2 separate regions of the Homo sapiens genome follow, and region 2 is linked to region 1. Evidence: fine-mapped expression QTL. A gene starts in region 1. The other region holds a variant in brackets. All regions are shown on one strand. Distances are between the middles of the regions. Region 1 holds the start of MSANTD2 (Myb/SANT DNA binding domain containing 2). Region 2 holds the start of ESAM-AS1 (ESAM antisense RNA 1).

What was found. PIP is the estimated chance that this variant, and not a neighbour inherited with it, causes the effect. A credible set is the group of variants that fine-mapping cannot tell apart.
Region 2: its variant is the best candidate, but not a certain one, in a credible set for the expression of MSANTD2 in whole blood (TOPMed, PIP 0.51).

What each region holds. Positions count from the first base shown.
Region 1 is chr11:124,798,707-124,801,597 of GRCh38, forward strand. MSANTD2 (Myb/SANT DNA binding domain containing 2) reads right to left here and starts at 1,700. Exons shown (of 4, transcript NM_001308027.2): 1 at 1,165-1,700. The coding sequence starts at 1,674. It overlaps MSANTD2-AS1 (MSANTD2 antisense RNA 1), which reads left to right and starts at 1,722. Exons shown (of 5, transcript NR_103862.1): 1 at 1,722-2,550. RefSeq lists silencers at 343-392, 623-702, 1,103-1,342, 1,383-2,052 and an enhancer at 1,279-1,886.
Region 2 is chr11:124,757,961-124,760,851 of GRCh38, forward strand. It overlaps ESAM (endothelial cell adhesion molecule), which reads right to left. Exons shown (of 7, transcript NM_138961.3): 2 at 389-567. It overlaps ESAM-AS1 (ESAM antisense RNA 1), which reads left to right and starts at 1,174. Exons shown (of 2, transcript NR_120577.1): 1 at 1,174-1,453. RefSeq lists enhancers at 268-427, 1,921-1,990. The variant C/T (reference allele first, on the strand shown) is at 1,489.

The sequences.
Region 1 (2,891 bases):
CTCATGATTGCGCCTATTAGACTTTATTATTGCTCTTTAGTGTGATCATTCTTATTTTATAATTGTTCTTGGTGGTTTTTATCCCCCCTCAAGAAGTTCCCAGAAAAAGTGCCAGCTGTATCAGAAAAGAAGTGCACAGATAATAGGATAAGTAGTTCAGTAAAAACTGGGAGAATCCTATCACAATCTTTTTAGCAGCCACTACGATGAGGAAATGAGCTTAACTAAAATACAACTCCTTATCTGCCAATAATACAAATATGAAAGCCTAGAGTCAGTTCTAGTAGCAAAATCTTAACCTGGCTAAGATTTCTAGCCCAAATTAAGCCTCTGCATTTAAACATGCAGGTACACAAGGACGGCCAGATGCACACTGAGAGTTCTACTTGTCACCACATCCGGCACAGAAACTGAAGCAGGGAAAAACTGGCTTTCCTGAAGGAGCTTCCTAAGAAACCGCAGGGCCTCAAGCCAATCTAACTCTGGAGGCATCGACAATCCAAATTCCAGACCAACTCTTGGCCAAGCTAACTTTTATGGTGTACACTAACTCCGCGGTAACAATACACAATCTGGCTACAATCAAGCCTTTCCAATTCTCCAAAGCATCTCTAGTCTTACTCGTCCTTCGTAGCTCAAGATAGAAGCAAAGCGACTGACACAAAGGCCAGTCGTCCCAAGGCGCTTTTTCTATGGCTCCGCTACGGCCACTTATTAACTATTCCTAAACTAGGGGCTCAATGCCCCCCCCTTCTGCCCTTCCTCAATCCTGCCCCGGCCGGTAAGCCTCTGCCTGGGAGCCCCTCCGCCTGGAACAAAGCGAGGGGCCCCGGCGGTGGGGGCAAGAGGCGCCAGCGGCACGGGGACTGCCGCACGGCGCACAATGAGAAACTACCAACTTCAGAGCGCAGGAACATCTCAATTGGCAAGAAAGAGGGGCGGCGGCAGGCACGCCCAACTTCAAACTCAGGAAACCTACGGGCTGGCGGCCATCTGGGAAAAAGCCCCCTTCCCAGGGAGAGAAGAAAAAGGCGGAGGAGATGCGAATCGCCCACCGGGCCCCGGAGGAGAGCCCTGCCCTCAGACCGGCCCCCGCCCCCGAGGCCCGCTTCCCCGCCTTCTCTCTGCCTCTGGTTCGCTGCCCCAGGCCGGGCGGCCGGTTACCTTGATGCGCTCCCGGCACTGGGACGGGGTCCGCTCGTAGCCCAGCTCGGCCAGGGCCCGGGACACGCGCTCGTACATGGCTGGCCCGGGGGCCTTGCTGCCGAACACCGTGCCGGCTCCCTCCAGCTGCTGGTACCGCGCCTCCACCAGCCGCTCGTTGCCCCACACTGCGATGAGCGCGTTCGTCTCGGCTGGCGTCCACGACATGCCCCGGCAGGCGGCGGCGGCGGCTGCCGCAGCCCCGCCACCGCCGCCACCAGGGGAGAAGGAGACCGAGGACGAGGCGGCGCTGCGGCCCCCCAGCCCCAGCCCGAGACCCCCGGACGCCGCTGCCCCCGAGCCCGCCGCACTGCCCGGCCCGAGCGGGGAGGCACCCCGAGGCGTGGAAGGGTCGGACAGCGATGGATTTCCGTCGCTCAGGCCACCAGGAGAAGCCGGGGAAAGCACCTCCATCTTCGGAATTTTTAGCGGCGAGTTGGCGGGCAGCTCCGAGCCACAGGGCGCAGCCATCTTCCAAGCGGCCGCCGCTGCACCGCCCGGAAGTGACGCGCCCGCGCATCCGGCCACCGCGGTCTCCGGGGCTGCCCTCGGGCCTGGCTCGCCCGCGGGCGGATGGCTCCGGGTCTCTGCTGCTGAGGATGTGGCTGCCGGGCGGAGGTCGTCCACTCCCCTGGGCCTTTCTCCGCGAGCCCTCCCACGCCGCCCGCTCCTCTCCCGGGGCGAAGGGCGGGGACGAGGCGCGCCGAAGCCCCGAGCTGAAGAGAAGGGTGGGGGCATGAGGGCGCTGGAGTGAGGAACAGATTGGAGCCTTCCCACTTCCTCTCCAATCTCAGCCCCCGGGAGGAGGGGTGAGGCCCTCGAGGGGGCCCGGAGTTAAGGAGGAATAGACCGTTTCTCTCTCTCCTGTCTCCCCCGCCTCTGCCCGTCTTCCCTCTAAGCCGGCCTCTAGGTGCAGAGGCTGACGTCCAGGATGGGGACCGGGGAAGCCTCTGGAGGGTATATCCGGGAAGGCACCAAGGCTGAAGTGAGAGCGGTTCTGGGGAAGGCTTTAAAAAGCAGATATGGACCAGGGTAGAGTTCGTACGCTGTAGCTTTTCAAGAACACCGATCTCATTAATTAAAGAACAGCAACTATTTAATTCCAGTTATAAACTATTGTTTTCCAGTTAGTCTGGGTAGGTGTGGCCGTTTGTAGAATAGTTAGATTACATTAGTCTATTGCGTTGGTACAGTTGTCTATAGCTTGAGCATATAAAAACTCCTGAGCCCAGCAGAAAAGTTACTTTCCAATACCAGTCTCCATCCTCCGTGCTTTGGAAGTTGCATCGTTTTCCGGTTTTTCGTACTCAAAGAACACTGTCAATTATGACAGCTCTGTGACCTCTGGTAATGAATTAGTGTATTAGTCACTCCTGAAACGTTCCTTAAAGTGCTGGAACTTAACAGTAGCACAGCACATCCAGTACACAGCTGTACCGTATTTCCATATTTTTCAAAGCTGAAAATCTTAATTGGATATCTTGGATCATTAACTTAAAACCTCAGCGGATTTTTCTTTCAAAGCAGACATAACTGAGGATGCTGACCAATGAATGCAAATAAACTATGCAATATTTTTTAAAATAACAAATGTATGTTAGTTTTTTTTAAGCTGAGGTCAACTATGTTTTGGGGGGTATGTGCTTTTTTAAATTATTGTTTTATTTCAATCGATTTTTGGGGGTAAC
Region 2 (2,891 bases), 41 kb before region 1:
AGTGCTGGGATTACAGGTATGAGTCACTGAGTCAGGCCAGAAATATGCTAACTTTTATAAGTCGTGTGTGTTACTTCCCCTAAGCGTTTCCCAGTCCTCAACTTCCATTCTTCCCCTCCTCCTCTCCTCCCTCATAACCAAGTAAAATGCCTCTCACACTTTTACAGTATTTTGTGTGCTGGATTTTTAGGGAAAGCCGGCAAAAGATAATTGTTTGGGAAGTCTCCAATATCAGAACAAAAACTGAACTGGTGAAGACTTCTGCTTTTCCCTGAAACTCCTTCCCCGGCCCCCATTCCCTCTCCACCCCTCCCACCGCTACCAGCTCTTTGCTTACAACCCCCTCTGGGCGCAACTTGCCGCTGGCTGACAGGCGTTCTTCCCTCACCTGATCCTCCTTTTCTTTCTGTTTGAAGAACCACATCACAAAGGGCACCTCCCATGGCTGGGATGAAGACACCTCCCCGTGCAAGGTGTACCACGCTGGAAGCACCACTTCCCCTCCCTCCACCGCCTGCAACCGGTTGGCGGGCAAGTGCAGTTGCAGCTGGGCCCGCGAGGGGGGCGCTGGAGACAAGAGCGAGGCGTGAGTGCCCAGGACCGGCTCCCAGCTCCGCCCGCGGACCCTGCCCTACGCGGCTTCACCAGAGAGCGAGGAAAGTCGCTTTAACTGGAAAGAGGAACCTTGCGGGGTCCGGCCCCTGGAGGCCTCAAGGGGTGCCCAGGGACCACTGGCTCAGTGTCCTGCTTCCCATTTCATCACGACTTCTCTCCACCGCCAGCCTCTGCAGTTGTAGCGGGGATGGGGACACATTTATATGCATTTATTCGTATCCAGAGGCGCAGATTTCTGAGCATCAAAGAGAGGGGGCAGATTTCCAGCGAGGAGGGGAAGATATGAGAAGAAAGGGTGGACCGACTGTTTCTGTCGTACGCGCCACGTAGCCCACTTGCTTCCCTAGTTTTCCTGAGGGAGAGTAGGGATGCTGCTCCGGGCCGCCAGGGTCCCTCACTCCCGAGTTCTCAAAGGGCGGAGGGGTTTGGGAGGCCGTCTGGTTACCTATTAACCCTGCGGCTCCTTCTGAGCTTGCCAGGAGCTGGAGAGAGCAGAGCAGCCCAGCGCCCAAGCCTGACCCAGTGAATGCGATGCTCCCCGCCCTCCCGCGCAATCTCAGAGGCGGGCTTCCCTCGGAAAACGGAGGGTTGAAACCCAGAAAGCTCCTCGGAGCCCTTCTGGGGTTCGGGCGATCTGGGCAGAGAACTCTCGGGTGGCAAGGAATTAAGGGCAGCGCGAACGACGGTCTCTAGACAAGTATGAAGCCTCCCCTGAGTGTGTCCGGCGCTCAGGGGGTGGACCGGGGTGTTGGTTTCAAGGAGGGGGCCATCGTTTGCACCACGGCGTCCAGAAATACTCATCCTTTGCCCTTCGGGGAGGCAACAGAGCAGCCAACTGGTAAGCCCTTTGGGGAATAACCTTGGGCTTGCACA[C/T]GGCCAGGCCTGAGGATGATCGCCGCTCCAGTCCCGGGCCCTACTCCCTCCAGGCCTCGGCCCTCTGCCTCGGAGCGGAAGACGCCACCTCCGCGTGGCGAGCAGGCGGCCAACGCCGCGGGAAGAGGCCGCAGCCAGGCCCCGCTCTCCACCCTCGCCCTAGGAGAGCCAGGCTGAAGGCCTCTAAGGGCTGGGAGCCGATCCGGCCAGGATGCAAGCCTCCCCCACCGCTTCCCGGCTGCGCCGTACAGAACCCCCACCTCTGTTACTTGGCCTTCGCAGCATCCCCCTTCCCATTTCCTGGAGGATCTCTGTGGTCTGGGCAGGAAATTTGTACCCAGTGATAAGGCAGAAGACAATGAAGGGGGGGCCACTAGACCGGAGGCTCTACGGGAGGAAACAATCCCCGCCTCAAGGAGCTGGACGCCCCCTGGGGACCCGGCCCGCTGGCCATTCCGCTGAGGCCGGGCACGCCTGGAGCCTGCAGGTGCTGCCGGCTCTCCCCCAGCCTTTCTACGACACACACCCGGCGGCCAGAAAGGGTTTCCGCCGGGAAACTGCCTGGGGCCCAGAAGGGGCGCGCCCTTCCTTCACCTTGTGGACCACCAGCGACCTCCCCAGGTCCCACATTTATAATTCCACTTTCCAGAAGGTAGAGGAGAGTTAAAAGAGATAGTAACGGACACACTGGGGTCTGGGCACATGCTCCTTGCCCTTCGCCCTGTCAGAAACTAGGAACAGAAGAGGGCCTGAGGCTTTTCTGCTCTCCCTCCTGGGTGTCTGCTGGCTCGGAAGTCACCAACTGGTCCGTTTTTTTCGGTCCCAGGGTCCACGGAGCCACTGGGAGAGAAAAGGAGTCTGGTTGGGTCTGATCGAAGGACACTGGGACAGCCCAAGAAAGGGACCCTTCCGGCCCACAGCCCTCTCCGAGGCCAGAGTGAGGGAGCCGGCAGGGGCCGAAGGAGAGCGAAATGGGCCCGCTCCCCGGGGCTATTTTTAGTCTCCCTCTTTCTCTGAGAAACTCCCCCCGCGGGCTTCTCACGCCCCAGGGGCAGCAGCACTGAGCCGCCGAGGAGCCTACTGAGCCGGAGAGCCTCCTCCAGAGCCCAGAAGAGCGGAGCCGGGCGCCTGCACGTTGCACCGGGGTCACCAGTGCCATTTAACCCTCGAGTGGCTGGCGGGAACTGGGCAACCCCCCAGGGGGACCGATTGGAACTTTTGAGTCCAGGTCTTCAGTCTGACAAACTGAGGCTCAAAGCTGGGGTAGGACAAAGGGTTGCAGATGAGCAGCAGGTGAAGCCTGGGACACTCAGGCAGTCAACTTGAACTGTCCTCCCTGGCTTCAGAGATTCCCCCAGCCCCCACCCCCCACAAGGAAGGGGGATAGAGTTGGGGTGGAATGC